Linked DNA regions of Homo sapiens: regions 2, 3, 4, 5, 6 and 7 are each linked to region 1. The links come from fine-mapping of genetic effects on gene expression. A gene starts in region 1. Each other region holds a variant in brackets. All regions are shown on one strand. Distances are from middle to middle.

The links.
Region 2: its variant is fine-mapped to the expression of KIAA1671 in whole blood (INTERVAL, PIP above 0.99).
Region 3: its variant is fine-mapped to the expression of KIAA1671 in esophagus muscle (GTEx, PIP above 0.99). The same link has a PIP of 0.9 or more in gastroesophageal junction.
Region 4: its variant is fine-mapped to the expression of KIAA1671 in whole blood (TOPMed, PIP 0.99).
Region 5: its variant is fine-mapped to the expression of KIAA1671 in thyroid (GTEx, PIP above 0.99).
Region 6: its variant is fine-mapped to the expression of KIAA1671 in blood mononuclear cells (TOPMed, PIP above 0.99). The same link has a PIP of 0.9 or more in whole blood.
Region 7: its variant is fine-mapped to the expression of KIAA1671 in whole blood (INTERVAL, PIP above 0.99).

What each region holds. Positions count from the first base shown.
Region 1 is chr22:24,950,704-24,955,329 of GRCh38, forward strand. KIAA1671 reads left to right here and starts at 2,013. Exons shown (of 13, transcript NM_001145206.2): 1 at 2,013-2,069. RefSeq lists a silencer at 1,830-2,079.
Region 2 is chr22:25,180,822-25,185,447 of GRCh38, forward strand. KIAA1671 reads left to right here. Exons shown (of 13, transcript NM_001145206.2): 10 at 878-1,002; 11 at 4,156-4,298. Among named protein-coding and RNA genes, the nearest start is that of CRYBB3, 17 kb to the right of the region's middle. The variant T/G (reference allele first, on the strand shown) is at 2,760.
Region 3 is chr22:25,154,530-25,159,155 of GRCh38, forward strand. All of the region lies in intron 6 of KIAA1671, which reads left to right. Among named protein-coding and RNA genes, the nearest start is that of CRYBB3, 43 kb to the right of the region's middle. The variant TG/T (reference allele first, on the strand shown) is at 2,474.
Region 4 is chr22:25,075,428-25,079,713 of GRCh38, forward strand. All of the region lies in intron 6 of KIAA1671, which reads left to right. Among named protein-coding and RNA genes, the nearest start is that of KIAA1671-AS1, 35 kb to the right of the region's middle. The variant G/A (reference allele first, on the strand shown) is at 2,268.
Region 5 is chr22:25,051,462-25,056,087 of GRCh38, forward strand. All of the region lies in intron 6 of KIAA1671, which reads left to right. Among named protein-coding and RNA genes, the nearest start is that of KIAA1671-AS1, 59 kb to the right of the region's middle. The variant G/A (reference allele first, on the strand shown) is at 2,336.
Region 6 is chr22:25,067,911-25,072,239 of GRCh38, forward strand. The region is part of intron 6 of KIAA1671; the gene reads left to right. Among named protein-coding and RNA genes, the nearest start is that of KIAA1671-AS1, 43 kb to the right of the region's middle. RefSeq lists an enhancer at 1,713-2,263. The variant C/G (reference allele first, on the strand shown) is at 2,195.
Region 7 is chr22:25,089,732-25,094,357 of GRCh38, forward strand. The region is part of intron 6 of KIAA1671; the gene reads left to right. Among named protein-coding and RNA genes, the nearest start is that of KIAA1671-AS1, 21 kb to the right of the region's middle. The variant C/T (reference allele first, on the strand shown) is at 2,293.

The DNA of each region.
Region 1 (4,626 bases):
AGAGGCGATGCCAAGGTGGAAGCCTGCATTGGCTGGGGAGCTGAGAAACATGGAACATTCCATTGAACAGAACCCCCAGCCTACGCATTCTGGTTCATGGAGATTTGCCCAGGAGAGACAGGAAGTTCCCATAAGGTTAGGGAGGAGGGGCAGCAGATGGCATGTCATCAGCTGTTGGTCATTCATGCACTCAGCATACATTCTTTGAGCACCTATTGTGTGCCAAGCCCTGTTCTAGGCACTGGGAATCGGAGGTGAAAGACAGACAGAAGTCCCTTCCTCCAGGAGGTCTAGAGAGAAGAGCAGACAATCAACGATTTTCCTTTGCTGGTATAACATACACGTCATGTAAAGGCCTGACTTACGTGGATTTTGAAGGATTTTAAGTTTCAACCCAGCCGTTCCTGGTCTCCTACTCACAGACTTCTCTCTGGAAGTGGTAGTTGTCTGTAAAAGCAACTGGGTTTGATCCTTTTGATGACTGTACTCAAGATACCCAGATGATAAGGAGAATGTCTTGAGACATGAGACCTCATGGGACCTCTGCCCCCCAATTCCTGGGTTCCAGCACTGTACACAAGTCAGTTGGGGGTTCTCGGGCTGCTGTTTGGTAAACAGGGTTTACCCTGCCTGGGTCTGATGGTGATGATCAGACCTTCAAAAGGGTTGCAGTGCAAACGGTGTGGAGAACAGGAGCTACCCTTGTTTCTTACACACACCCAACAATTTAAGAGCAAAATGAGGCAAGAAGTCTCCCCACCAATCCTCCTGAAGCCACACAATGTGATGTCTTTTTCTTTTTTTTTTTTTTGAGATGGAGTCTTGCTCTGTCGTCCAGGCTGGAGTGCAGTGGCGCGCTCTTGGCTCACTGCAATCTCCACCTCCCGGGTTCAAGCCATTCTCCTGCCTTAGCCTCCCGAGTAGCTGGGATCACAGGCATCCGCCACCACGCCCAGCTAATTTTTGTAATTTTTAGTAGTGACGAGGTTTCACCACGTTGGCCAGGCTGGTCTCAAACTCATGACCTCAGGTGATCCACCCGCCTCGGCCTCCCAAAATGCTGGGATTACAAGCCACCGTGCGCAGCCTGTGATGTCCTTTTCTTTCTCTTTTTTTATTGAGGTCTATCTTGCTTATAATAAAGGCACATTGATTTTAGGTCCTCCAGTTATTCATGCTCTGTACATTTCCCATAGGAGCACATGTCACAGATTCAATTTGATATACTCGTGAAATTATTTGTTTGAATATCTGTAAGCTGCACAACAGCCTGGATTTTGCCAGCTGCCCACCACTGGGTTCTCCAGCACCCAGCATGCAATAGGTGCTTAATAAAGATCTGCTGAATGAAATGAGTAACGGATAACAGAACAGGTATTTTCTCTTTCAGAGGCGACTTCCTACGATTCTCTCAACTTGTCCACAAGTTCCTGTACCCATTACCCCACAACTCACACCCACAACATAATGGCAGGAGGATGCGCACACAGTAGGCGCTCCAGCGAACTCTCAGGTGCAGTGCCCTTGCTTGGCGCGAGGAGGCGCCAGCACCGCGCACAGACCTTGCCCGCCCCCGGGCCGGCACCAGCAGCCCAGGCAAGTCAGTGGGCCCACATTTATGGAGCGCCTCCTGAAATCCTGGGTTGCATTAGGCTCTCGGGGTCGCCGGCTGGGCAGCGGGTCGGTGCCGGTGGCGGGGGATCCTGGCTGGTGACTGGGGAACATCCAGGGAACGCGGGAGGGTACCCGGAGCAAAGTTCCCAATTGGACAGAGCGGGGTCGGGCCTCGAGGGGCGGGAGCGCTTCCGGCAGGGGTGTCCAAGCGAGTCGTGACCTCTGACCCGCCGGAGAGGTCCCAGGCCCAGGCGCCACTGCGGACTCGGGTCCTGCCTGCTCTGCTCCCCTCCGCGCAGGCGCGGCCGGCGGCAGTTCCCATGGTGACGGGGGCGCGTCCCCGCTCGAGGCCCCGCCCCCAGCAGGCTAGGCTGCGCGGGGCTGCGGGCTCCCAGGGCAGGTGCCGCGGGCTGCGGGCAGGTGGCGGCGCGGCGCGGGCTGGCGGTGGCTCCACGGTAGGTTGCGCAGCGGCTGCGGGCAGTGGGGGCCGGCTGGCCGCCTCCTGTCCCCGGCCGACGAGGTAGCTGGGGGTGACGGCGGCTGGCGAGGGCCGCCAAGTTTCTGCCCGGCCGAGGCCCCGGGAGAAAAGTTGGCAAAGTTGGCCGGGGAAGAGGCGGGGAGCCGGAGGATTTCCCCAGACTCCGGGTCTGCAGGGAGGGAGGATCCCGGTTTGGGAGCCGGGGAATCCGTCTCCCGAGACTTGAGAGTGGATCCCGCGGGAAGATCCCGCACAGGGCAACCAATGGATCACGTGCCACCTGGTTGGCGACTTGGGAGTCGATCCCTGGAGGGGATCGGGCGCTGGAGGCCTGGGGTCCCACTGGATCCCCAGTCAGGGGTGACGGCGAAGGGTGATTCGAGACTGGGAGCGAGAGGATCAATCTCCTCCCATGCCAGCCTGAGCCTTGGGAATGGATTCAGAGAGATCCCGTGGCTAGGAGCTGAGGGATCGCTGGAGATCTGGGTTACTCAGCCTGGAGCTGCTAGGGTCTGGACATTTGTGCGGGTTGGAGGCCCCGGAGGTGGAAGTGGGAAGCAAGGGCGGCGAGCGAGACGGAACCCTGGTCGAGGGGAGCCCGGAGGACAGCGCGGTGGTTCGGGGGGCGTGAGAGGGGCGGCGCGCGGGGCCCCTCGGACGCGGAGGCTCCGGACACGTCCTCTCGGCCTGGCCTGCGCCCCCCCTCCGCTCGTCTTCCCAGGGCGGAGGCGCCCTGATGGGATTAAGCCTCAGTCCCCCTGTTACCAGGCAGGCCCGCGTGGTCCCCGCCCCGATGGCGGCGCGGCCCACCCGGGCTCACGGGTGGGGCCCTCGGGATGGGAAGCGGCTCGTTGACCCCCACCCGAGCCTGACCTTTTCACACCCTGCTGGCACAAACTCGCCTGGGAGTGGGGACGCCGCGCCTTAAAACCCTGCTGTTTGTCCAGTCCCGGAGCAGGCGTGTGACCTCCACCGCGCGACGCCTAGGTGGCTAGGGCTTCCTGCCTGCCGGGACTGAACTTTCTCTAGCCAGGAGCAGCCATTATCTTTTGGAAGGGAAAGGACTGTACCTGTTGCACAAAGAAAAACACTTTCTTTGCACCTTTTTTGTGACCTTGGGCAAAACACTTAACCTATCTGAATCCAGATGGGGACCCTCTGGGCAAAATGGGCTTGGCCTAGGATGGATCGGAATGAAGGGTATGAAACAGGTAGGGGCTCTATAAGTATCAGTGCCTCCCTCAGTCTATGGCCTCTCCTTTCCCGTGCCCCATCCCCTGTGCTTGCCTTACAGTATCTAAAGATTCCAGAAACCCTACTTGCTATCTTTTGAAACCGCAGGATTAGAGAGCTATTTAGCTTAACCTTTCTTCCAAATGGGTTAATTGCCCCTCTGATCCCCCCTTGCAGAGAGAAGCTCTGAGGTTTGGCTAATGAGTAACCAAGACATTTGGACAAAGCTTCTCCCTTGGTCTGGCTTTCCCTCTGCTAATCCATCAAGGTTCCTGGACAAACGTGTGCACCCCCAGACTCTGGCGCCTCCTTCCTTCCTGTTGCAGCCAGGGACAGTTCCCGAGGAATTTGTACAGACACAAGCCCAGATCTTGGTGGTTCTGGCAGGGGGATCCTTTTTAAAGGATTTGCATGCTTGACAAGGGTGCAATTACCCAAGAGAAGTGCAGAGTTTCAATGCAGTGTCTGGACATACATTTCAGCTGGGCACATGAACTGGCTGGCTCCATCAACCAGCGTGTATTGAGCACCTATGTCAGGAGCACTGTAGAAATGGTGTGGCCTAGGGCAACTCAGGATTTGTCCTCTTGGAGTTACTTTCCAGCTATGGAGCAGTCGGCTTGCCCTGCAGTCTAGTACTGATTCTTGATGTTGGGGATACAGTTCTCACCCTAGGTTCAGAGGCTGGAAGCTGCCCCTACCCCCACTGGAGGTCCTAGGGGCTGCTTTTTTTCGTTTGTTTTGTTTTGTTTTGTTTTATTTTGTTTTTTGAGATGGAGTCTCGCTCTGCAGCCCAGGCTAGAGTGCAATGGCGCGATCTCGGCTCACTGCGACCTCTGCCTCCCGGGTTCAAGCAATTCTCCGGCCTCAGCCTCCAGAGTGGCTGGGATTACAGATGCCCGCCACTCTGCCCGGCTAATTTTTGTATTTTTAGTAGAGATAGGGTTTCACCATGTTGGCCAGGCTGATCCCAAACTCCTAACCTTAGGTGATCCTCCTGCCTCCGCCTCCCAAAGTGCTAGGATTACAGGCATGAGCCACTGCGCCTGGCCGGGGCTGTTTTTTATTGAAGGCTGACCTTGGCAGGAGAATGAAGGAGCCAGTTGTCTGGCTCTGAGCATTTCTCCTCACCAGGCTACATCTCTGACCAACTCAGAAACAGAGCCTCACAGGGATATTTTATATGTGCATTCATTCATTTATTTATCATTTGTTCCTTCAACAAATATTTCAAGACACTGTGTCAAAGATGAGGCTAGCAGCCACATCCTTAAGGGGATACTTTATGCCCTGAAAGTCTT
Region 2 (4,626 bases), 230 kb after region 1:
ACCTCTCTGCACTTTCTTGGTTTTCTGAGCCAAGTTCTATTAAGCCACCTGGAGCAAATGAAGACCATAATAGGGACAAAAGCACACAAATACCCCCAGCTGGAACGTGGCAGCAGCACCTCTGGCTCCCATCAGCCTGGAGGAGCCGGCCAGGGGCTGGATGGGGAAGGCTGGGTCTGTGTTTTCTTAGCGTACCTCAGTTCCTCGGGTAGCCCAAGGGCTCCAGAGCACCAGGTCTTGCCTCTTTCATCCCCGCCCCCTCCTCCAATCCTCACTGTGCCCATGCCAGCATCCTGGTCTCAGAGAAGTAGAAACTCCTCCCATATCACTCCTGGAAGAGTGGGATAGGCAGCCCATCACCCAAAAGCTTGAGTGATCAGCTCAGCCTCAAGCACGGGTCTGGGGTTAAGTCCTGGATAGGGGAGTTGGGGTCAAGGAAAATGGCTTCCTGGTCCACCTTTGGGCCGCCTTTCCACAAGACACATGAAGCTCTCCACATTCTCCTCTGAGAGCATAACCTCGGTGCATTGTTGGCTGAAAGCATTCCTATCTACTTTCCTGCCTCTGCCAAAGATTTCCTTCTATTCCCTGACTTGGAATGAGCCAAGGGCCCAGGAGATGGGTTTGCCTCTGTCCTCCCGCAAAAGAAAACCTACTCTGCCTGTTGTCAGTATCTTCTGGCAAGAAGCAGAGTTGTGAGAAGAGAGAGCATGAAAGCAGGCACCTTGGTGGTCCTCATCTGTAAAATGGGCCATAGCGTCTTCTGTGCAGGTCTGATGTGAGCATTGCATGAGATACTGTGTGCAAATTATCTGGCATGTAGGACCTCAATACATGGCAGCTGCTGATGAATTCAGTGCCCTTTTCTTTGCAACAGAGGAGAAATCACCCAGGAAGGAGGAGTCGGATGAGGAGGAGACGGCATCCAAAGCTGAGAGGACCCCTGTCAGCCATCCTCAGAGGATGCCTGCGTTTCCAGGCATGGATCCGGCAGTGCTAAAGGTACCAGACCTCTCACCAAGAGTCACCTGGTGGGCATGATCCTCAACCTTAGCAGTGTAAAGAATAGATTCCGGCTGGGTGCAGTGGCTCACGCCTGTAATCCCAGCACTTTGGGAGGCCGAGTTGGGCGGATCACGAGATCAGGAGATCGAGACCATCCTGGATAACATGGTGAAACCCCGTCTCTACTAAAAAATAGAAAAAAATTAGCCGGGCGTGGTGGCGGGCGCCTGTAGTCCCAGCTACCTGGGAGGCTGAGGCAGGAGAATGGCTTGAACCTGGGAGGCGGAGCTTGCAGTAAGCCGAGATTGCGCCACGGCACTCCAGCCTGGGCGACAGAGCGGGACTCCATCTCAAAAAAAAAACAAAAAACAAACATATTCCTTCCTTCCGTCCTTCCTTCCTTTCTTCCTCCCTCCCTGTCTTCCTCCTTCCTTTTGTCCCTTCTTCCTCCCTCCCTTCCTACCTCTTTCTCTTTCCTCCCTCCCTTTCTCCTTCCTTTTCTCTTCTTTCTTTCCTCCCTCCCTTTCTCTTCTTTCTTTCCTCCCTCCCTTTCTCTTTTCTTCCTTCCTTCCTTTTTTGTCCATCCTTTTTTATCCTTCTTTTTTTCCTTCCTTCTCCTTCCTTCATTCCTTCCATTTTTGAAATAGTTTAAGTTTCAAACGGAGTTGCAAAAATAACTCAGGGAGTTTCTCCATACCCTTCACTCAGCTTCACCCACATGATAGTATTTCACATGACCATAGCACATTGGCAAAATTAGGAAATTGGCTTCTACCATTAACAATACTACCAACTTACTTGGCTTTCACCAGTGGCCCTGTGTTGCTTAATCTCCACTTTCTGACTCTCCTCCGCCCCCAAACCTGCTGCTCTGGTGTCATAGCTAAGCCTTGGTTTGCTTATCTGTAAAGTGGGCTGAGAATCCAACTGGTGACGCTCACCAGTGCTGAACATCAGGGAAGCAGGAGTGAACAAACCCAGGCTCCTGAAGCCCTTGAGGAATCCGGTCTGCTGTGGAAGGCAGGCACAGAAAATGATCATTTCAGTACCAGATGACACAGGAAGCCAGTGCTGGAACCAAGTCCCAGTCTCCCAAATTGCACCAGAATGCCAACTGTATTATGCAATGCTGAGGGAAAGGCTGAGCTGCCTCCCTCCTCCCCACGTCCAGCTCTCACAAGTGTCTCTCATAGTCCTGGAACCAAATGGCACTTAATTTGGGTGAGGAAAGAGGCCCTTTTGCCCCCCTGTTTCAGACATCATGTGCTTGCAAACTCACTTTATGCTCCAGCAACCTTGCAAAAGGTAGCTCTTCGTTCCCCTTTTATTGAAGAAGAAATGAAGGCAGACAAGCCTGAATTGTTGGTGGAATTTCTCAACTCTGTGTATGCCATGCAGGCCACACAATCCCCATGTGGGAGCGCCGTGACTCTGTTGCTCCTTTAGTAGACGGAAGTTTTGCTTTTCTGTCATTTCTTCCACGAATAGAAAATCAGTCAGTAGTGGATGCGTGCTTGTGTCTGTAATTGATTTTACAGGCCCTTACAGTGTGAACATCTTTCAGTCACTAGAACTAGGTTAGAGGTTTTCTGACTTTCTTTCCCTCCCTCCCTCCCTCCCTCCCTCCCTCCCTCCCTCTCTTCCTTCCTTCCTTTCTCTTTCTCCTTCCTTCCTTCCTTCCTTGTTCTCTCCTTCCTTCCTTCCTTCTTCTTTTTTTGTTTTTTGAGACAGTCTCTCTGTCACCCAGGCTAGAG[T/G]GCAGTGGTGTGATCCACTGCAAGCTCCGCCTCCCGGGTTCAAGCGATTCTCCTGCCTCAGCCTCCCGAGTAGCTGGGACTACAGGCGCCGGCCACCATGCCTGGCTAATTTTTTGTATTTTTAGTAGAAACGGGGTTTCACCATGTTAGTAAGGATGGTCTCAATCTCCTGACCTCCTGATCCGCCTGCCTCGGCCTCCCAAAGTGCTGGGATTACAGGCGTGAGCCACCGCATCTGGCCTTCCTCCCTCCCTCCCTCCCATCCTTCCTTCCTTCCTTCCCTCATTTTCTTTCTTGCCACAAAGCAAATGATCTTATAAGGTAGCCTAACGCAGGAGGCAGACAGCCACAGGCCCTGGGTGTAGGTGAGATGGAGGCCCTGGGGCTCCCATGTGGATGCACCGAGTAACTGCTGAGGCAGATCTTGGGATTCCAGAACACAGCTCCAGTCCACTGTGCTCTGTGAAAACGGGGCTCTGGCCATTCATTCATCAGTGTTAGCTTAAACTTCAATCTCTACCACAGCAGTGCTAGGCGATTATTAACAACCAGGGGAGGTTGCAGGGCTTGTCCTGGAAAGAACCCTGGAGTTGGGCTGCGGGCAGACCCGGTGTGAATCCCAGTTCATAAAAGCTGTGTGACTTCGGGCTAGACCTTTGAGCTTTGGGCTCTCTCGCCCTGTAAAATGGGGAAAGCCAGGATCTGCCCTAAAAGAATCATACACACATGGAACGAACTCACATTTGTCATATTTCTTGAGCCTGGTAGAGCAAAAGTGATGGGTGATCAGTGCACAGAAGCTATCAGTGGACAATGGTAATGACTGCTGTTGCTGGGGGCTGACCCAACACGGCCTGGGAGAGAGAAGCCACTTGCCACCACTCACACCTCAGGTCCCGCAAGGGAACTTTATGCACACCATTGTATTCCATTCCCAACATGCCCTCCAAAAATGGGTGGATATTTGCCCTCCGGTTTTCTTATGGGACTCTAATAGACTGTCGAAAACTTCATTTTATTTACATGGCTCCAGGAGTAAGGAACTGAACGGAGCTAAGCTGCAGCTGTTGGATGGAGGGAGCTGCTCTCTCCATGTAGAGTTCTCAGGGTGGCATGCCGTGTGCTGAGCACACTACAAATGGTGGCTTTTCAGCAAAAGAGAATGTGATTATGTGGGGTTTGGGTGGTGATTCGATCTTGGGGGTCGAGGGTGGCTGCTTGGAATGCCAGACTGACATCTGACTTTTCTCAGCCCCCATGTTTCCTGTCTGGGTTTATTCCGATTCAGGGGGCCCCGAGTGTTTGCAGAAGGCTCATTGTACCTGACATTTGCATGGGAGGGGGCCCTTCCCCAGACAAAGGGCAGCTTATAGACTCAGCTCTCTTTTCTCCCCAGGCTCAGCTGCACAAGAGGCCAGAGGTGGACAGTCCTGGCGAGACCCCCAGCTGGGCACCCCAACCCAAGAGCCCCAAGTCCCCCTTCCAGCCTGGGGTGCTGGGCAGTCGCGTGCTGCCTTCCAGCATGGACAAGGATGAGAGGTGAGGGGTCTTGGGGAATGGGGGTCCCTCTCCTTCCAAACTCAGGCTATACTTCTAGAGAGGTGCTCGCATAGGTTTTAGAGCTGAATAGAAGAGAGTTACAACTTTTTAATTTTCTCTAGCAGCAGAAGCTTTGTTCATGAGAATTCTCAATACTCAGATACCTAAAAAGTACAACAGAGGCCGGGGAAGGAGGCCAGGAATCAGGCCAGCTGGCCTCTCCTCTTCCCCGCCCACTGCCACCTGCTACATGGAACGCCAGGGCACCATTGCTGGAGAACTACTGATCTAGTTTAGCCCTCTCCAGACCGATGGGGAAACTGAGGCA
Region 3 (4,626 bases), 200 kb after region 1:
AGCTGTGAGTTAGAACAGACAGCACTCTAGGCCTGGGCAGAGTCTTTGAACAAAGCCACAGGCTGGGCTGAGCACCAGAAGGAAACAGAGCCCTTGGCTCTGTCTCAGGCAATGGAATGTCAGCCCGACTGGTTTTCCCCCTTTCCCTGGGGTGGGGTGTTCATCAACAAAGGACTCTCCTTGCTGGTTGACAGCCTGAGGTTCCAGGCACCCCCTCAGCCCCACTGCGAGGTCCCCAACTCCAGAGGAAGAGAGACTCCATTCATGCTGAGCTTCCTATAGGCCCCAGCTCTGCCAGGCCAGCCATGCAAGGCTGCTCTGCAGGGCAGATGAGAGGGGGCTGTCCAGGCACACAAAATAGTAGGCTCTTAATAGATACGATGCTTAACTTCCCCAGGCTGTTCCTTCTGGCTGCTTTGCCTTCCCTGATATCCCCACCTGTCTTGTCACACCCTCCTCAGAGCCCTCTGTCACCTGCCACTCAGGCCTTCTGCGCCCTCTCCCCCACTCTGTCTGAGGCCCAGGGGACCTTGGATACTTGGGATAGGAAACTTTGATTAATCAGCGGACCTCAATTTGAGATGGCATTTTCTGCCCCTTGCTCTTTTTAAACCTATTCATAATAATTTTAGCATCTTTCCACATCAGCCCTTCAATTTCTACCTTCTGAAGAGGCAGTCATTGTTTTGAATGGAGACACCATGTTAATTCCCTTGCACTGATAAGCTATAGTTTAGGTATCAGGTGCTCTTGTGGAAGGGCAGTTGGGTTGTGTGTTTGCTGTTACCAAAAACAGTGCTGCTGGGACCATTCATTTGTGTGTGCATTTGTGTGTGTATTATATATGTTTTGTGTGTATGTGTATTTGTGTCTGTTTCTATGTATTTGTGTATGTGTGTGTGGGGGGGTTTTTGTAGGTATGCATTTGTGTATATTTGTGTGTATGCAGCTGTGTGTGTGTGTGTATTGGGTGCATGTATTTATATGTGTTTTTGTGTTGTCTATTTTTTGTGTATGTGTGTGCATTGGTGTAGATGTTTGTGTGTGTACATTTGTGCATGTGTATGTGCTTGTGTATATTTGTGTTTGTGTGAAAGTGTTTTTTGTGTATATGCATTTGTGTGTGCATATGTAAGTATTGTGTATGTGTGTATGCATATCTGTGTGTTTATACATGTGGTTATGTGTATATTTTTGTGTATGTGCATTTGCATGTGTATATACCTATGTGTGTATTTGTATTTATGTACCTGTGCTTGTGTGTATTTGTATATATGTGTGTTTATGTATATTTTTTCTGTGTCTATGCATTTGCCTGTATATGTGTGTATTTGTATGTATGCACCTGTACTTGTATTTGTGTATGTGTATGTATATAGTTTTTTTGTGTATATATATTTATATAAATATATATAAATACACACATATATATGTATGTGTGTATTTGTGTGTATCTTTTTTGTGCATGTATGTGTGTATGTGCTTTTTTTTTTTTTTTTTTTTTTTTTTTGAGATGGAGTCTTGCTGTGGCACCCAGGCTGGAGTGCAGTGGCGTGATCTCGGCTCACTGCAAGCTCTCACCTCCTAGGTTCATGCCATTCTCCTGCCTCAGCCTCCCGAGTAGCTGGGACTACAGGCACCCGCCACCATGCCTGGCTAATATTTTTGTATTTTTTTAGTAGAGATGGGGTTTCACCGTGTTAGCCAGGATAGTCTTGATCTCCTGACCTCGTGATCCGCCCTCCTCGGCTTCCCAAAGTGCTGGGATTACAGGCATGAGCCACCGTGCCTGGCCTGTATGTGCTTTTTATGTATATGTAATTGTGTGCATATATGTGTGTATTTGTGTGTATGCATTTGTGTGTGTTTATATTTTCATGTGTATATGTGTTTGTGTGTATATGTGTGCATATGTGTTTGTGTTTTGTGTACATGTTTGTGTGCATTTGTGTGTGTGTGCATGTGTTGTGTTTATATGTATTTGTGTGTATATATGTGTATGTGTACATCCGTATGTGTTTTTGTGTCTTTGCATGTGTGTATATATACATATATGTGTGCATCTGCATGTGTTTGTGTATGTGTTTTGTGTATATGTGTTTGTGTATATACTCATGTATGTCTGCATCTATGTGTATGTGTTTTGTGTATATACATTTGTGTGTATATACATGTATGTGTGGATCTGTGTGTGCGTGCATCTGTCTGCTGGATGGACTTCCAGTAGCAGGGATGGTCAAGCCACTTTGTGACATTGGAATGTCATCATTCCCATAGAACACAGCTGAGTTGGTGGCAGTGTTCTGGCAGGGAGAGAGAGACCAGGCCTTGGGCTGGAGGATTTGGGGTCCTCAGTCAATAGGGAGACACACCCAGCGCCCTGCCTCCTCAACAGGTTTACACGTACGCTGCAAGGCTGCAGTTCTGTCACCTGACAAGTTGAGCCCTAGCCTGAAATAAACTGTGAGAGAGA[TG/T]TTTTGACATGTGATGTTTCAAAAAAAGAAGTCAAATTGGGCTTAGTCTGTTTTAAGAATCCCTCCAAGAGGAGCCAAGTTGGGATCAGTGGGAGCAGATTCCATTAAAAGGAGATGCTGGGAAACGTAAAAGAATTATATACTTACATATAATTATACATTTTCAAAATGTACTTTTTATATCACTAGCCACAAATGTTACAAAATACAAAAAGAGGTAGAATAAAAAAAAGTCATCTCTCCTCGTCCTCTAGTCACGCAATTCCTCTCCTAGAGACAAGTATGATTGCAGTTTTCTTGTGTCCTTAGGTATTCTGTGCGTTTTGGTCTTTACTTTTTTCCCCCTCACGAATGGCAGGGTCTGCCACCTGTTACTTTGCACCTTGCTTTACTCACTAGACAGTGAATCTTGGAGGTCGTTCCATGTCAGTAAACTTATGTCTGCCTCATTCTTTTTAACTATTCTTTCTAACAATTAAATAGAGTTCTACATTATAATTGTTCTATACTTTAGGTTAAATACATTTTTTAAAACTCCAGATTCTCTTTTCCCTTGACTCATCGTAACCTTAGAACTGTAGAGCTTATATTAACAGAAATTCTGAGTTAAAAAGAACATCAAATTTGTCTATCTCCATGCAAGAGTGCCACAGTACTTCTAGAATGTTCTGTGCCCCTCCCCTCTCCCCTGATTATTTTGGGCATTTTTCTTCTCCCTCAGGATCAGTCTCTCCTATTTTGCACCTAAATGTATCACACAGGCCACCCCAGTTTCACTGTCAGCACACTGCACATAGTTTTTTTTTTTTCCTGTTCTTTTTATTTTTTTTTTTATTCAGATGGAGTCTCCCTCTGTTGCCCAGGCTGGAGTGCAGTGGCACGATCTCAGCTTACTGCAACCTCCACCTCCCAGGTTCATGCCTTTCTCCTGCCTCAGCCTCCCGAGTAGCTGGGACTACAGGTACCCACCACCACGCCCGGCTAATTTTTTGTATTTTTACTAGAGATGGGGTTTCACTGTGTCAGGCAGGATGGTCTTGATCTCCTGACCTTGTGATCCGCCTGCCTCGGCCTCCCAAAGTCCTGGGATTACAGGCGTGAGCCACCATGCCCAGCCCACATAGTGTTTTATAAAAAACAATTTGTTTTAAAAAGCAACAAGAATTAAATTTTAAGGACATATATAAAAGCAGATGGTCCTGTGATATATCAAGAGGGTCTGGGTAAATAGCAGTGTCATTCTGACATTAGAGAGGGGACAGGGAGTCATTTATGGGTTCATTCACTCCATCCATCCATCCATCTTCACTTGCTTCCTGTCCACTGTGGCTGTCTCTGAACTTGTCACTGGCATTTGAGGGCGAACAGACCCCAGTTCCTGACCTCAGGGAGCTTACAGTTTAGAGAACACAGTCAAACGATAATCACAGCCCAGCCCAATAATTTCTATGATGGGGTGAGCACAGGGGGTTCTATGGGGGTCCTAAGAACCCACCTGGGGATGGGGCCAGCCAGGAGAGGCTTCCTGGGGGAGTGGATGCCTGGGCCGCATTTTAGGGACACATTCCAAACAGACCCCGGGCCATACTGCCAGCAGCCGACACACTGGACCAAGGAGTACTTCCTGGGTAAAACTGCAGTGGGCGTTGGTAGAGTGGGGAATCGCAGGCCACTAACTTGAAGCCCAGCCACCTGGGTTTGAATGGAGCTCCTTCCTCTCTGTGCCTCGGTCTTCTCATGCAGAAAGTGGGGATAGTAACAGTACCTGATTTCTCGGATTGTTGGGAGGACTAAATGTCACGGCCCAGCATGCAGTAAGCACCATCCAAGTGTCTGCTATTGTTACTATTTAATGTGTCAGAACTTCAGCTCACTTATCTGTGAAATGGGGATATTAACAGTATCTATTATGGGAATTAAACTTGATGGTCTACATAAGGAATTTGACATGGTGCCAGGCATGCAGTTGGCGCTTCTTAGGTGTTTGTGGCTGTTACTATTCTTATTGCCTCCCTGCCTACCTCTGACACCCACAGCGCAGGCTCTAGGGTGCCCACTGGGCTTCTTGGGTCTAGGGGAACCCTGCCTCTGAGGCCGACAGGAGCCTGGGCCTCCCAGCCCAGCTGTTGTTTGTGTTTATAGCCTCCAAGGA
Region 4 (4,286 bases), 120 kb after region 1:
GTATTTTTTCGCTTTTAGTTTCATCCCTAGTAGGGCCTCATCACTGCCAGCTGAATGAGTGAATCAGTGCGCATCTTTTTTTTTTTGAGATGGAGTCTCTGTCACCCAGGCTGGAGTGCAGTGGCGTGATCTCGGCTCACTGCAACCTCTGCCTCCTGGGTTCAAGCGATTCTCCTGCCTCAGCCTCCCAAGTAGCTGGGACTACAGGCACGTGCTACCACACCCAGCTAATTTTTTGTATTTTTATTTTTAGTAGAGATGGGGTTTCACCGTGTTAGCCAGGATGGTCTCTATCTCCCAAAGTGCCAGGATTACAGGCGTGAGCACTGCACCCAGTCATCAGTGCGCATCTTTTTTTTTTTTTTTGAGACAAAGTCTCACTCTTGTTCCCAGGCTGGAGTGCAGTGGCGCGATCTCGACTCACTGCAACCTCCTCCTCCCGGGTTCAAGCGATTCTCCTGCCTCAGCCTCCCGAGTAGCTGGGATTACAGGCGCCTGCCACCATGCCCGGCTAATTTTTGTATTTTTAGTAGAGATGGGGTTTCACTGTGTTAGCCAGGCTCGTCTCGAACTCCTGACCTCAGGTGATCCACCCGCCTTGGCCTCCCAAAATGCTGGGATTACAGGCGTGAGCCACTGCACCCAGCCTGTCAGTCCTTATCTTTTTGTGTGTCCACTGGCAGCATAAAAAAATCTGCCATGTTATTTAAAAAGTTTGTAACCATGATATTTAATAGCTGCTTAATATTCCTACCTGTTGTCAGCCTTGGTTTATGGGGTACTGGTTTCATTTACTTTGGATATATACCCAGAAGAGGGATTGGTGAATCTAGTAGCCAATTCTTTGTGGTTGGAAACTTAGGTTATTCCCAGGTGTTTATTGTATGCATAATTGTTCCCCGCCTTAAATCTTGATTCACATTTCGAGCTGTCTCCTGTGTCAGCTTCTTAGAAGTGGGGCCAAGCGTGGGCTGCAACAGGTTTTCTGCAAAGTTGTCACTTGGTGGTGGGATGTTTTTAGCTTCCTGTTGGCAGCCTGAGTCCTTCTCATAGCTGCACTTCTCTTCTGGGGGGAGAAACCACTATCACCATCAAGCTTGGTGCTGGTCCAGCAACAGTTGGGGCATGGGGAGAGAGATTAAGTTTCTCTTTCAAACTATTAGTAAGAATAGCTGAGGGCTACAGCCTCTGGTGTGGCTGTTGTGAGTTATTTAATCTCCTTTGTTGCTGAGATAACCTCGCCAGACGGTCCCAAGGCCTGTGGCCTTGCTAGGGGCATCAAGCTGCTCTCTTGGGGTTATCAATTACAGCAGTAGTAATTAGTGATATAAGCAATAGTCATATGATGATAAAAGTCACCATCACCACCACCACTCCTACTGAGTGCTCACAAAATCCTGAGCCTGTACTAAACGCCTTTCAGAGGGGTCTCATTATATCCTTATAAGAACCCCAATGGGTTGATCTCATTATTACCTGCATTTTGCAATTAGGGAAACTGAGGCCTTGAAAGGCTAGGTATCTCCTCCAAGGTCCCCGGCTAGGAAGTGCTAGAGCCTGTATTTGAACCCAGCTCTCCCTCTATTATTTTTACTACTTCGTGGAGTCTGATCTTCTGGTTTCTCAGATGGGGAAACTGAGGCCCATGGTGTTGAAGCAACTTCCCAGCCTACAGGAAAGCTTTCTATGCATATCAAGCTTTGCAACGAGGAGGATGACAGAAGAATGTGGCACTAGGCGAGGCGGGGCTCTGGAGGGAGAACCCTGGCCTAGAATCCTGGCCCTGTCTCTACTGGGTGTGTGGCTTTTGGTAAATCACATCATGGCTGTGGGCATCAGTTTCCCTCTCTATAAGTGGCAGTGGTCAGCCCCACCTTGGAGGAACTGTGCTGAGGATTAGCTAAGAATAAGGGGCATTAGTGTCCTTGGCACAGGGCTGGACTTAGAGTGGGCATTTAATATGGAGATGGTGTTTGTTGGGAGCTGGGGAGGGCTCTGATATAATGGCAGGGACCCCCACCTCCTGTCCCATGCTCTTCCCAGCTGCCTCTCCAGCCCCGCCCAGGGTCTGTGAGGCTGACTCTCGCAGGCTTCCTCTACTCCAGCCTCCCATGGCAGAGGTGGCTGCTTTCAGTGTAGTGAGGAACTGCTGAGTGGCCCGTGGGGCGTGACACCCCAGCTGGGGCTTCTGATAGCTTCTTGGGGAAGGTGCAGATCCCTCACCTGCCCTTTTAAGATCCTCCTGCAGGGTCCGTGTTCCATGCCTT[G/A]GTCTCCCTGGAGATGGGAAATCACTGTGGTTTTCATTGTGTTTCTAAGCTTCATGTCCCCACGTTTGACTCTGTGACCAGATTTTTGAATGGAAAAAATCTAAATGTGGTTAGTTCCACTGTTTTCTCCCCAGACCCTCTTGCTACTTGTTCATTTGGCTGTGGCCCTCACTCAGCGTGTAATCACCTCTAGGTGACAGTAGTAATAATAATAGTCATGAAACAGCAAAAGATATTATCCTCTTTGACGCTAAGTGCCTCAGTGTGTGGGATCTTGATTAATCCTCACAAATAGCCCTGAGGGGTGGATTTTATTATTATTTTACCGAAGAGAAAACTGAGATTCTGAGAGGCTGAGTAACCACCAGATATGCAACAGCTGGCCAGGGGCAGAGCTGGGATTTGAACTTGGAAATCTGACTCCAAAGCTAATTTGATGACTACATGCAGTCTCTGTCAGGCAGGGAGGTTGCTTGTGTGTTTACCACTGAACTCTCAGCCCTTGGCCCAGTGCCTGGCACATAATAGGTGCTTAATAGATGTGGGCTGGCCAGGTGCAGTGGTTCACGCCTGTAATCCCAAGACTCTGTGAGATCAAAGCGGGAGGATTGCTTGAGCCCAGGAATTTGAGACCAGCTTGGGTAACACAGCAATACTCAGTCTCTACAAAAGAATTTTTTTTTGAATAGCCAAGTATAATGGTGTACGCCTATAATCTCAAATACTCAGCAGGCTGAGGCAGAAGGATCACCTGAGCCCAAGAGTTCGAGGCTGCAGTAAGCTAGGATTGTACCACTGCTTCCCAGCCTGGGAGACAGAGCAAGACCCTGTCTCAAAAAGAAGTAAAAAATAAAAATAGATGTGGGCTGATGGACCACCCTGTTGACCTGACATGTTGAAAGCTATTGTGGGGACAAATGGCCTTATCGTAGTGCCTGGCACTCCATACGCACACCGTAAGCAATTACTGTTACCAGCTTCTGAATCTCAGATCATAGTGGCTTCAGTTTGTGCCAAGGGTCTGGTTTGGCTTTGTCTCAGCAATGTCTGTGGCTGAAATAGAAGAACTGACTATTTTTGTGCTGTTTGAGTTGGGCCTGAGGTTTGGGCCATGGAACAGTTTGCATCATGAGAGATTTTCATCTGACTTGAGCTGTGGGCGCCTTTTTAGACCCAGTCATGGAGGCAAAAACGGGCTTGGAGTCAGTCTCTCCTGGCTTCTATTCCCTACTGGGCCACTTATTAATAGAGCATGGGGCCTCGAGCAAATCTCTTAGCCCTCCCAGAAACTCAGTTTTGCCATCTATAGAGTAGAAATATTGATAGCAACTTCCTCGTGGGTTGGCCTGAGGACTCAGTGAGGCGATGCAAACAAAGCCAGGCATACAGTAGGTGCTGAATAAGTGGTGGCAGCCGATGCTGGTGCTAGGCACCTGATGTGTCCTCAGTTCAGTTCAGTTGCATGCACCAGGCCCTGTTCTAAAGGTTTGGGATACATCAGTGCACAAGACAGCCATGTTTCCTGCCCCAGGGACTAACTTTTTTTTTTTTTTGAGATGGAGTCTCGCTCTGTCGCCCAGGCTGGAGTGCAATGGCACCATCTCGGCTCACTGCAACCTCCGCCTCCTGGGTTCAAATGATTCCCCTGCCTCCGCCTCCTGAGGACCTGTGATTATAGGGGCCCGGCCAGAATTAACATTCTAGTGGGGTGTTCAGGCAATCAACAATGGGTATGTGTAAGAACGTTGTATAGTATGTCAGGAGGTGGGCTGTGCTGGGGAAAGACAGAAGGAACCAGGTAAGAAGGTTCTGGAGGGCTTGGGTGTGTGGGGCCTCTGCCTCTCTAAAAAGGTGACATTTGAACAGAGACTTTAGAAGCAGGGAGAGCATAGGCCAGGGGAGCTTGGGGGGAAACAGGAATAGTCAGTGCAAAGGCTTTAAGGCCCAAGCATGCACAGGCACATTTGCAGAACAGGAGGGATGCCACGGTGGCTGCAGCAGACTGGGTGAGAGGAGAGA
Region 5 (4,626 bases), 100 kb after region 1:
GTAAATGAGATCACCCAGCACATAGTAAATTCTCAATGTCTCAACTGCAGTGGTAGCTTTTGCTTCTTTCTCCCTCTTCCCTTCCTCCTTTCCTGATCCTTTCCATCTCTTCTACTTTCCCTTCCCTTTCTCATCCTCCTCCTCCCCTTCCTCTCCTCTGCTTTTTTTCTCACCTGTCCAATTCTCTTTTTATAAAAGGGGAAAGTGAAGCCAGGAGAGAGGACCTGACTTAACCAGGGTGACCCAGCAGAGGAGGGCTGGGGTCCTGAGCCCCTGGTGGCTGTCCCTGCTCCTCTGGAAATTGGTCATACATGCATTTTGTGTCTCATGAGGTGTTTGAAGGGATTCACTGTGTCTGCTATGATTCCCATCACTGCTTTGATGAATGACTTTGTGCTGTTATTTTCCCATTTAAGTTCATGTTCATCTTCATTTTTTGAGCCTCTCAGGCCTTGCCAATTCCTACTTCAGCCTCATGTTAGTGACCATGAATCCTATTTTGCAGAGCAGGAAAGTGAGGCTCAGAATGCTTCAGCCCCTTGCCCAAGGCCACACAGCTGCTGGGGGAGCTGGAATGGAAACGGGGCCTATCTCACTCCAGCCTTGGCCCCAGGCCCTTCCCGCCATGGGCCTGTGCTTTTGGCCTATGGCCAACCCCTGCCAGCCCCTGCCAGCTCCTCTCTCTCCTGGGCCTGCAGCACTCCGTGCATTAGCTACATGAGGAAACAAGACACCCTGAGCCCTGGGACTCCTCCTGGAGCTGAGAATGTGATATTTGCTCAGCCCGGGGTTGGCCATCAGCTGCTGTGCTGCTGCTGTCTTGCAGAGGGTGCCTGGGACCTGCCAGGCCAATGCCCTGCTGATTTGCATAGCCCTGCCCATGGTTGCTGAACTACAGACCCTGCCACTTGCTAGAGGCCTTGAGCAAGTGAGTTTACCACTCAGGGCCTCACTTTTCCTCCTCTATAAAGTGGATAGTGATAGCAATAACAAAGCCTAACACTTACTATCGTTACATGTCATGTAGATACTGCTATTATTTCCACTTCACAGATGGGCAAACTGAGGCTCAGAGCCATTAAGTGTCTCTTCCAAGTTCTGGGTCTGCAGTCCATGCTCTTAAGTGTCTGCTGAACTTTCCACTCGTCTTACGTGGTAGCCCGGTGGGAGGACAGAGCCCAAATGAGATGATGCTTACAAAGCTCTTAGCACAGTGCCTGACACCGAGAAATGGCTTCACAAATCATAGCAGCTATTATTATTATTATTATTTGAGATGGAGTCTCACTCTGCCGCCCAGGCTGGAGTGCAGTGGCATAATCTCGATTCACTGCAGCCTCTGCCTCCCGGGTTCAAGTGATTCTCGTGCCTCAGCCTGCTGAGTAGCTGGGACTACAGGCGTGCACCACCACACCAGGCTGATTTTTGTATTTTCAGTAGAGATAGGTTTTGCCATGTTGGCCAGGCTGGTCTCAAACACCTGACCTCAAGTTTTCCGCCAGCCTTGGTTTCCCAAAGTGCTGAGATGACAGGTGTGAGCCACTGCACCCGGCTTATTATTATTTTATTATTATTTGCGGCCAGGTTTTTTTTCTATGCTCTCCCAAAGAGCTGATGGGAAAGACAAACATCCATAGCCTTAGAAGTTTTTCTGCAGTTGAGGAGACAGGCCCAGTGTAGGGAAGTGTCTTGTGTATGGTCCTGTGGCCTCTAGAGGCAGAGCTGGGGCTGGAGTTCTTCTTTGTGACTCCTTGGCCAGTGCTCTCTGTTTCTCCCCATCTCCCTTGTTACTTTCAGGGTTCCCCTCAGGACCTCGAGTCCACATGGCGAATCCAAGTCCTGTATCAGGCTTCCTCCCTCTCCTCTTTTCCCCAGGAAGTGAGCTTTGGTCTGCATTTTCACAGGGACCATAAAACACAGTGACTCAGTTGTGGACTGTGACCTCGAGTCACAGTTTACCCTGGAGGCCCATCTTGTGACGATGAAGTCAGAGATTCATCAGCTGGGAGGCTTCCTTGCAATGGGCCAGCGGGAGGGCCTCTGGTAGTCTCTAGAATTTTCTCCCAATCCCTGAAACCTATTGGTTAGCATATGCTGGCTCATTTGGTTCTTGAGTTTATTTCTTTTTGGGCCTACTATGCGCCAGGCCCTGCATGATGGGGCCTGGAGATTTTCTCCGTCAGCCTCCTGGAGTTCACAGCCCAGGGGTCTGAAAATGACCTGGGAGGGTCCAGTTAGGTGCAGGAAGTAGGAGGGGAGACATTTGGGACTGAGAACTCACACAGACAAAGGGGGGTGCTTGGAGGACCAGTTGGGCTGAGGTAGAGTGTTTAGG[G/A]ATTTTGCTCCTTTTTTTGACAAATATTTATCTGCATGTGGTAAGTGCTATGCTGGGCAGTGGGCTACAGTTATGACTAAGGCATAGACAATTAAGAAGGTAGGTAAATAGGCCAGGCACAGTGGCTCACGCCTATAATTCCAGCAGTTGGGGAGGCCTAGGCAGGCGATTCGCCTGAGCTCAGGAGTTCGAGACCAGCCTGGGCAACATGGTGAAACCCTGTTTCTACTAAAATACAAAAAAAAAAAAAAAAAAAAGAAGAATTAGACTGGCGTGGTGTTGCGTGCCTGTAATCTCAGCTACTCAGGAAGCTGAGGGGCAGGAGAATCACTTGATCCCAGCTACTCAGGAGGCTGAGGCAGGAAAATCGCTTGAACTCGGGAGGCGGAGGTTTTAGTGAGCTGAGTTTTCGCCACTGCACTCCAGCGTGGGTAACAGAGTGAGACTCCATCTCAAAAAAAAAGAAGGTAGGTAAATAATTGCAGTGGGTTCTAATAGCTAATTTTCTTTTTTTTTCTTAAACAACAGAAATTTGCTTTCTCACAGATACACAGGCTAGAAGTCCAAGATGAAGGAGCTAGCAAGGCTGGCTTCTAATGAGGCTCCTCTCCGTGGCTGACAGCTGTGTCCTTCATTTGTCTTTGCGTAGCCTCTTCTGTGTATGCAGGGTGGGAGGTGGGTGATAGGTAGATGTCTCTGGTCTCTCTTCCTCTTCGTTTGCCAGTTTATTACAAAAGATAAGCTGTAGAAGCAGAGATGCGTAGGGTGAGGTATGGGGGAGGGAGTGCAGAGCTTCCATGCCCTCCCTGGGCACGCCACCCTCCAGGAACCTCCCTGTGTTCAGGTATCCGGAAGCTCCCTAATAGCTACTGTTTATTGAACATTTACTATATGCCAGGCATCATGTCATGTGCTTTAATTTAATTTGAATTTGTGTAAAGTCTCCCTGGAGGAGGGAGGGGGTGTCTCCACTTGGGGAGGGCTAGCTGAGAAGCAGGAGTTCGAGACCAAAGAGTCTGAGTTCTAAGTCTTGAAGGCTGAGCAGGTGTTTGCCAGGTAACTATGGTCTGGGGAACAGTGGTTTGCCCCTGATCGAGGGAACAGCATGGGCAGAGGTTTAGAGGCGTGAAATTGTGCTCTATACAACGGATGTCATCTGGGGTCCTTTAAACTTGACTTCCACGTGACCCTCCTGGACACCCGCAGTGTTTGGTTTTACACTGAGCTCAGACTTTCCCACATCTCTAACTGGTGAAACTGTGGCCCTTTGCTTCTGAGGCTGGTGCTGTGTCATCGTCATGCCAGCATCTTTGTACGCAGGATCTGCCAGGGCAAAGGTTGAGAGGTTTGAGAGCATTTGGACCTGATGACTTTGTTATTAAGACTGGAAAAAGGAGGGGAGGAACATTTGGATTCTGCTGACAGCAGTGGTAGTCCTTGTGAGTGTAATCAACTTGAAATAAGTGGGAACTTGTGAGGTGGCCCCCGCCCAAGAACATATCCTGGCTGCTAGTTAGAGATTCCCTCTAGATTTCAGTTGGTTGACAGCGAGTCCAAATGAGAAGGAAACAATCAAAATGAAAGACCACACAAGGACTGCTGAAAGTAACTCATCAAAGGTTGTGACTGAAAAAACAAGTTGTGGGCTGGGCGCCGTGGCTCATGCCTGTCATCCAGTGACTCAGGAAGCCAAGATAGGAGGATTGCTTGAGGCCAGGAGTTCCAGACCAGCCTGGGCTGAACATAGTGAGACCCCTGTCTCTAAAACAATGAATAAATAAAAATTTAAAAATTAGCCATGGTAGCTCATTGAGATATTTATTTTCATTTCCCTAATGACTAATGATTTTGAGTATCTGTTCATATGCCAAATGACCAGTTGTATATCTTTTTGGCAGAAATGTCCGTTCAAGTCCTTTGCCCATTTTTGAATCAGATTGTTTTTTCTTTGTTGTTGAGTTGTAGGAATACATACACACAAACATATATATAGATAGATATAGATAGATATAGATATAGATATAGATATAGATAGATATAGATACAGATACAGATATAGAGAGAGAGACAGGCAAACAGACAGACAGGATCTGGCTCTGTTGCCCAGGCTATAGTGCCGGTGGCATGATCTCGGCTCACTGCAACACCTCGTGAGTTCAAACCATCCTCCCACCTCAGCTTCCCAAGTACCTGGGACTACAGGCATGTGCCACCATGCCCAGCTAATTTTTTTTTTTTTTTTTGTATTTTTGGTAGAGACGGGGTTTTGCCATATTGCCCAGGTTGGTCTC
Region 6 (4,329 bases), 120 kb after region 1:
CCAGACTTGACACTCATCAGCCAGTCAGCCAGGACACGCAGCGCCAGGGGTACAGCCAGGCAGCTGGCATCATCCCTCCAGCGGTGCCGCCAGTGCAGAGGAACCAGCCCTTTTGCTGCACTTTTGTCGGTCAGCAGGACCCAGTGCTCTGGCTATGCTGTCAGCTGGGGCTGTCCTCTGACTGGTACTGTCAGCTGGTGAGCAGGGCTGGCTTTTCAGCTGTACTGTCTGGCAGTTAGGGAGCAGGGCCGGCCTTCCGACTGTGCCGTCAGGGAGCAGGGCCAGCCTTCCGACTGTGCCATCAGGGAGCAGGGCCGGCCTTCTGACTGTGCTGCCAGTCCCTGGCTCTGCCATCGCTGGGGCCAACCCCTGACTTGTCAGGCAGCGAGCAGCTGAGACCCAGTGCCTGCTGGGAGTGGGGCGCTGAGAATCAATGAAACCACAGGCCTGCCTCTGAAGAGCTTTGAAGCTACCCCGTGGTTTTCTCAGCTGCTGCACCCAGCACCCTCTCCTTGTTTTTTGTTTTTTTGTTGTTTTTTTTTTTGAGACAGAGCCTCACTCTGTCACCCAGGCTGGAGTGCAGTGGCACGATCTCGGCTCACTGCAAGCTCCGCCTACCGGGTTCACGCCATTCTCCTGCCTCAGCCTCCCGAGTAGCTGGGACTACAGGCGCCCGCCTCCGCGGCCGGCTAATTTTTTATATTTTTAGTAGAGACGGGGTTTCACCGTGTTAGCCAGGATGGTCTCGATCTCCTGACCTCATGATCTGCCCACCTTGGCCTCCCAAAGTTCTGGGATTACAGGCGTGAGCCACCGTGCCCAGCCCACCCTCTCCTTATTTAAGTGAGTTTCCTGTTAGATGCTCTGCCTGGTGTCCAGTGGTGAGGCTGAAGGATGCAGCACAGATGGGCCCAGGATGTTGCTGGGGCAGTCAGTGTGCCAAGCTCCAGCCTGGGGGCGGGAGCCTGGTGCAGAACCCAGGGCCTCTGCCTGGTGCCTCTGTGAACACCTCCCCCGCCTCAGTTTTCCCCTCTCAGCAGTGAGAAGGACCTTGCCTCAGAAGCACAGCTGTCTTGCATCCGGCGCTCACTTGCCGGAGTCTCTGGGTTATGGCCTCGGCTTATGAGGAGCAGGTGTTGAGTAGGGGATCCAGGAGCGTCTGGCTTGTATTTGAATCCCTGTCTCACTGTTTAGCTGCTGCTCACCTCAGGAACCTCTTTTGACCCTGTGAGTTTTGGTTTCCTCATCTGGACAGTAGAAGTGATGATACTGCCCTCATGATATGACCATGAAAACTAAACTAGATGGTTTGGCAGGATTCTACCTTGTTGAATCCTCAAAGCCCTGAACACAGGGATAATTTGTCGCATTTTACAGAAGGGGTAACTGAGGCTCAGGAGGATGAGGTGACTTGCTAAAATCATGCTCTTTTGAAGGAAACATCTGGGAAAGTTTGCCTTGGATTTGCCCGAGGTGTGCTTTTATTGCATTTTAATCTCTGAAAATTGACATTCTCCTCACTCCCCACCTGGTGCAGCTGGCAGCTGGTGCCTCAGGGAGCTGATCCCTCCCTTTGCCAGCACCCCACTCCCCATGCTGGGCTGGGTGTCCACAGGAGTGGACGGGCCCAGGAATCATGGCTGGGAGGCCTGGGTTCCAGCCTTGCTTTAGCTACCAACTCACCGCGTGACCTTGGCCAAGTCCCTTGACTTCTCTGGGCCTCGGTTTTCCTCTCTGTAAAATGGGGATGGCCACACCCTCCTTCTGGGGGGATCAGAAGCTTAGCTGAGTTTAAAAGGAACATGACTGACATCAAAGGAGCCCGGTAAACCAATGGGATCCTGAGTTGATTTCCTTCCCTGTAACGAGTGGCAGGGCCTCCTTCTCCTCATGTGGTTTGGGGAGGAGGAACCACATACATTTGGGCTCACACGCACAGCACACAGTCAGTCCACACATGCACAAAACACACTCGTATGCACACATGCACACATACTTGACTCCACGTAAAAGCATGTACACACACACTCCTTCATGCATAAACACACACACACACGCGTGCACACATTCAGTTCCCGGGCATCACCTTCTCTCTTCTTGCCTTCTTGCCGTACAACTGAAAACCCTAAAACCCTCCGTGCCTACGGCTCCCGGGAGGGTGAGGGTCCAGGCAGCTGGGTTCAGAAGGATCCAC[C/G]CCTGGACCCGCCCCACTGGACGAGAAGCCAGAGATGCCCCGGGCGGGGCTCATAGGACCGAGTGGTGGCTTCTCAGTTCCCCAGGCAGCCGTGGCCATTAGTGGAGCCGACTGGCTGGTCCCCTGGCCGTGAGCCGGCTTCTGAATGATTTATGCCGCCTTGAACTTGACTCCAGCGTGACAGGAGTGAGAAGAGCCGCTCCCGCTAGAGGAAAGCTGGAAACCGTACTGTGCTCACCACATAACCTCTGGGTGCTGGAAATGGAGTATTACTACTGCCCCAGCCTGCTGAAGCTCTTGCGCTACCTCTGGGTGAGTGGCGGGGGGCAGTGCAGGCTCCAGGACGGGGTCACGTCCTTTCCCTCTCCTCCTGCTTCCTGTCAACTTTGCTTTTTGGCTGTGTCTGGTTAGCAATGTCTCTGTTTTCTTTAAGAAATGGTGGAGGTTACAAGGAAGAGAGAATGTTGGGGAAAAAGGAAACGGGCTTGGTTTGGGAGGTAGCACAGGTTTGTAGGAAGAGCTGAGACTCCTGAACAGGAATGAAGATCCTGGATCCGATGTGGGCTTTCCTCCAGTCCTCAAGAAAACAGGAAGAACGAGAACCACTTCAGTGAGTTTTTCAGAAAGCAACATTTATTTGATTTAAAGGACTATTCTTTATTCTGAAATTACATCCCTCTTGCCTCTGTGTGTGTAAGAATGTCTGTCTTCTATGGGATGAAAATAATAGATTTTGCTTTCCTTTTCCTGAACCTACACAGTGATAGAAGAAGTTGGGACCCCTTCCCCACTAACACTCACACTGTGCTGTCTCCTCTGGATAACAGAGGAAAAAAACCAGAACATTTTCTGATGAAATGCCAAAGTCAGGGAAGCTGTGCAGAAGTGCTTTGTGAGGTATAAAATGCTTTCAGGTCTCACTTTGACTTCGCAACTGGTCTGTTTTCTGTGCCTGGGCAAGTTACTTCTCCTCTCTGGGTTTCTGTTTCCTCCTCTGTGAAATAAGGAGTGGGTGTAGGTGATTCTGGGTTGTGTGACATCCATCAGGGCTCTGGGAATAGAGGGACTTACCGAAGAATTGTCATGGGCTGGTCTCAGAGTTTTCCAGAATATTTGCCACTGGTTTCAGCACACCCAAAAGGGAAAGTCTTAGGAAATATTATCTTTCCCATTGCTGAGTGTTTGCAAATACTTCAGATGCCTTCTTGCCCAGAGAATTTTCCAGCGCTCCTAAAAATACAACTTTAGGAAACATTGCCTTTTAGCCGCCAGTCCCAGAGTGTCTCACCTCCCTCCTGAGCCCCCCAGAGCAGTGGGGAAACAGGAGATCCCCCCAGTCCATATTGTTCAATCATTGGCCTATGAACATTCTTATATAATAAATGTAAGGCAACATTGATTGATTGATTGATTGATGTTTTAATTACAAAAATAATGCATGTGCATGGTAAAAAGATATGGAAAATTCAGACAGGCACAAAGAAGAAAAGAAGTCTCCAATAATCGTATTTTTGAATTGTGTGGTTTGCAAGGTCTGGATAACCTTGATGTGCCTGGCTGCGTGTTGGGCTCTGGGCTCCATGCTGGAGATGCAGAGATGACTAAGATACAGTCCACGGTCCCCAGAACTTAGAGCTTGGCATAGGTGTTGAACTCATTGACAAATGGCTACGATCTCATGTTCATTCAGCACACACTTACCAGCAGTAGTTTGGAGCTAGCGCCAGATACTTGGAATATAGGAGCAAGACGGCATGGTCCCCTGACCGCATGGAACTTAGTCTGGTGAGAATTTGGACTTTGCTCAAGGAACTGAAACAAGGACCATGTATGTGTTAGGATGGGGGTGGTGCACAGTGCCTCAAGGGATATGGTCTCGTTGGGGTGCAGGGGCCAGGAGAGCCTCCCCAAGGAAGCTGAGTGCTGGAGGATGCCTAGGAGCTGGCAGTTGATGCTAGGGTAGGGGTCCAGGGAAGTGTGTGCCAGGCAGAGGGAACAGCATGTGCAAAGGGCTGGGGTGGATGTCAGAAAGAGCAAGAGCCCATGGCATGCCCATGGTACATTCCAGGTACTGGCCTAAGCTCATCCTGGCCAGTAGAGGCTGGGCAGTAATGCCCTCAGCCTCCTAGGGGCAG
Region 7 (4,626 bases), 140 kb after region 1:
TTTTGAACCAGTTGCCTCTAGACAGACATGTCGGTCATTTCCAGTTGCGTGCACTATAAACAATTCTGCAGTGAACATTGTTGTGCAGACACCTTTGCGCCCTTGTGTGTTTTGCTGCAGGAGAAATGCCTGGCCGTGGCCTTTCTGGGTCATCTAAAGATTGAACAGGGGTTTTCTAGGTGGGCTGGGACTGGCAGGGGTGATGGAGCTATGCTCAGGCATAAAGAACGGCGTGTGTAGGTACAGAGGCTAGAAGCTGAGAAGAGGGTGGTGCGCTGTCAGACATAAACCAGGTCTGCTGTCTGCCTCCTGGCTCCTGGGCTCCAGCCTGATGCTCAAATGCCCCCACCTCTGCCAGGGTTTCACTCCATCTGTGAGGATCCAGGGAGTGCGGGCAGCTCCTTAGAAGAAGTCTCTGGCCCACCAGGCTTTTCTTGCTGTCAGGCCTCAGGGTTTGCACTGGAGTGTGCTGAGCTCTGGAGCCCTTAGCTCTACTGCTATGCCGGTCGAGAGACCGTAATTTCTTTCGTCAGTCCCTGAAGTTCCAGTCTCACCCTGCACGTGGCCGGTGTGGTGAGAAGCCCACAATGGCAGGCTGTTCTCAGCATCCTCCATCCTCATATTTTGGAGAATTTAGCTGGGACCCCACCCTAAACATGTTCAGGACTCTGGCCTCATTTGTTATCTGGGTAGCTGTTAGGTTAATCTGTTTCCTCTTCCCTGGCCTTTCCTGCACATTTATTTTGAAAGTTGAAATCTCAAATGTCTCCCAGACTCCCTCAGTCCTTTAGAACATAGGCAGTCCTTTGGGAAAACCCCACACTCGGAGAACTTTTCTGAGGCCTTGTCGAGAGAAACAGCCAGGGGCTGGCCCCTTCTGCCTCTGTAAGGCAAGAAGAATGACTAGTTACTGGGTGCTTGCTGCATATCAGACACCACACAAGGCACTTTTTCTGTCATCTCATTGGGTACACGTAGCACCTTCATCAAGCAATATTGTTATCATCATTTTATCACAGGCTCAGACATGTGTAGTGACTTGCCCAAGGTCACAAAACCAATGGATGGTGGCTCTGTTATCCCACAGGGCTGTCTTTCTGTTCTACTGTGTTTCTCTCCACTATTCCTTATTGGGAATTCCATGCTGTGAATGTTCTTCCATTGGACATCTGTCCTATTGGACTGCAGGCTCCACAAGGGCAGGGATCCTCATCTGTCTTGGTTCACTGCTGTATCCCTGGAGTCTAGCACAGGGCCTGGAACACAGTAGGCAATCAGTGAACTCTTCTTAAATGACTGCGTGAATGAGTGAAGGTTAGATAAAGTACTAGTCCATTTTTTTTTGAGATGGAGTCTTGCTCTGTCACCCAGGCTGGAGTACAGTGGCGTGATTTTGGCTCACTGCAACCTTTGCCTCCCATGTTCAAGCGATTCTCCTGCCTCAGCCTCCCGAGTAGCTGGAATTACAGGCGCCCACCACCATGTCTGGCTAATTTTTGTATTTTTAGTAGAGATGGGGTTTCACCATGTTGGCCAGGCTGGTCTCGAACTCCTAACCTCAGGTGATCCACCCACCTTGGCCTCCCAAAATGCTGGGATTACAGGCATGAGCCACCGTACCTGGCCTGGTCCATTCTATTTCAAGCAAAGGTGTTGTTTGTTTGTTGATGATGGTGATGATGATGAAGATGATTTTGTTCTACCTCTCAGAATTGAACTCACGCTGCCAAAAACAAAACTCTTCTTTCTTCGTAAACCAGTTTACCTTATGGGAATCTGGTATTTTGCATTTTTCCTCTCCAAGCCAAATGAGAATGCCTATTCTATATCAGCAGAGATAGAAATCTGAACATTTCCTTTAGAAATTTCTGCATAGAAAACTAAAGCGAGGCGGAACTGCGCTTGAAGATTTCAGTTGCCATGGCTACGGGTAATACAGTGAATCATGTTCTCACATGCGTTCTTCCTTGGGCCTTCAATTGCTGTATCTCCGTTACAGGATTTTGACTATTAAATGCATTTTATTCAGTAAGGGGTTGAGAGGAGATGCCCGCTGCTGAGCCCCCGCTGACTGAAATGCTTCAACCAGCAAGGATTTATTGAGCATCTCCTAGGCTCTGGTTCATCAGGGTTCATCTTCATCACCGTCTTGTGGGTGTTGGGGTTACCACCTCTGTTGTAGAGATGGACAAGTACAGCCCCATAGAGTTTGGCTTGTGTGTGTGTTCATTTATTCATCCTTTAGTTTATTTGGTCATTCATTTACTCCTTTGTTTATCCACTCAACAAATA[C/T]GTATTGAGTCTTTTCTCTGTGCCCGACGCTGTTATAGTCACCAAGCATCAGAGGGGAATACGAAAAACAATTCCTGCCCTGGCTGAGTGTGTGTTCTAGTGGGAGAGACAGCTAATATATATGAAAGATAAATAATTCCAAATACAGATAAATGCATGAAGACAAGGAAACAGAATGATGTGACAATAAAACAGGTGATGAGACTGGGAGGAAGCGTGACTGGAATAAAATTTGGGTGGAGCCCTGAGGGAAGGAGCCAGCCACGCAGGGATGTGGGGAAGGAGGCTGCAGGCAGAGGGAACAGCACGTGCAAAGGCCCTGCATTGGGAACAAGCTGAGACAGGTTGAGGCATAGTAAGGCCAATATTGCCAGCCTTCCATTGAGCAAGTAGGGGAAGCAAGTGGGAGCCTTGTGGGCCAGGGCAGAATATGTAGAGTTTATTCTGGCTGTAGTGGAGAGATGAGGGAGCATTTTTGGTGGAGGCTAACCTCGTAGGATGGAGAACTGTCAAGCCCAGCCAGGCTGATGTGTGGGGAGTGGACTGGAGGGGCAGGAGGTAAAGCAGGGAGGCCAGTGGCAGTGGGGACTTGGGTCCAGTGCTGGGGTGGGATGGGAAGCAAGGAGAAGTGATCGGGTTCAGGCTGTAGTTTCAAATTCAAGCCATGGGAATGGATTGGAAGATCTGGGGAGAAGAGGAACTACGGAGGGTCCCCAGTGTCTGGCCCGAATAACAGGCGAGTGGTGCCAAATTTTACTGCAACAGGGAAAAGAGTGTGGAGGGAGCAGCTTTAGATGCAGGGGAGCTGTTGCGAGTTGGTGGGAAGAGATGGCATCAGAGCACAAGAGGAGAGGCTGGCCTGGGCTGTGAGTGTGGCCCCTCGGCCCCCTGCACTGGAGGGAGTCAGGGTGGCCTCCCAGATGCAGGGAACAGGGAGGGTGAGCTCAAGGTCACCAGCTGAGTATGGATGGGGGAGTTGCAGATTAGTGGAAAGAGAATTTACTGAGTTTTGGAAGCAGACAGGTTCCTGGGTTTAAGTCCAGCCGGCAAGTGACTATGTTCATTGAGCACTTACTGTGTGCTAGGTAATCTCTAGGCAGTGTCTCACACAACCCTCACACAAACCCTACAAAGCAATCGCTATTGTTATCCCCATTTACAGATGAGGAGACTGAAACTCAGAGGTGCAGTAACTTGTCTGAAGTCCACAGCGCATTGGTGGAGGGGCCAGTTTTGAGCAGGCAGCCTAGCTATGCTTCACAGCCTAGGAACCAGATCAGAGGCTCAGATTTCTCATCTTTCAAGAGGAGAGACAAGACCTTGCAGGGCTGTTAGTGGAATGCCATAAAATAATGGATGGCAACCCCTATAGAGTGCCTAGCACTGTGCTCAGGCACAATAGGTGCCTAAGGGACAGCCACTCCCTCCCCTGACCTGTTTCTGTCCACTTGGTTTCCATTAAGTGACACTCACTGCTGGCAGTTCATTACTGCACAGTGTGTTCAATTGCTTGGAGAAGTCCTTCCTCCAAGGGATCTCATTAAGTCCATTTTGAAATGAGAACACTTGGTGGGGAGCGGGGAGGCAGTTATTATTATACCCTGAAAATCAGTTGTTTGAGTAAGAATGGAGAGGTACCGGGATCTTCCCTGCCCCCCGACACACACACACACACACACACACACACACACACACACACACACACACACACACACTCTCTCTCTCTCTCTCTCTCTCTCTCTCTGTCTCTCTCTCTCTCTCTCTCTCTCTCTCTCTCTCTCTCTCTCTGTCTCTCTCTCTTTCTCTCTCTGTCTGTCTCTCTCTCTCTCTCTCTCTCTCTCTCTCTCTCTCTCTCTCTCTCTCCCTTCTGCTTCTGCTTCTGCTTCTGCTCCTGACAGTGATGCTGGTTTGCAGGCACTTTGCCAGCCCCCGCCTTGCCTCCCAGGACTTCTCACTTTGGGTTAAAGAAGGGAGGGAGGACAGAGAGATATATGGGGCCACCCTGAGGACTGTATAGGTGTCCACATCCAAACACGAAGGCTGCTCCCAACTTAAAGCATCGTTCTTGTTTTCGAAGAAAGCGAACCATCAACTCAGACCTTCTTGAGAGAGGAGTTTTTCTGTCAAAGCTCCAAACAGGGCATTTTCTGTTGCCTTCTTGAGACTTGGGATGAATGGTGGTTAAACGGGAGCAGGGAGGCCCAGTTTAAATGCAGGTGTGGGTCATTTGCCCAGAGCTTGGAGCCCTCCAGAGCTCCCTCCAGAGGGACTGGCGTGTTGTGCTGCGGGTGGTACATGCAGACCCCCAGGGTGGCTTTGTGGAGTGAATGAATC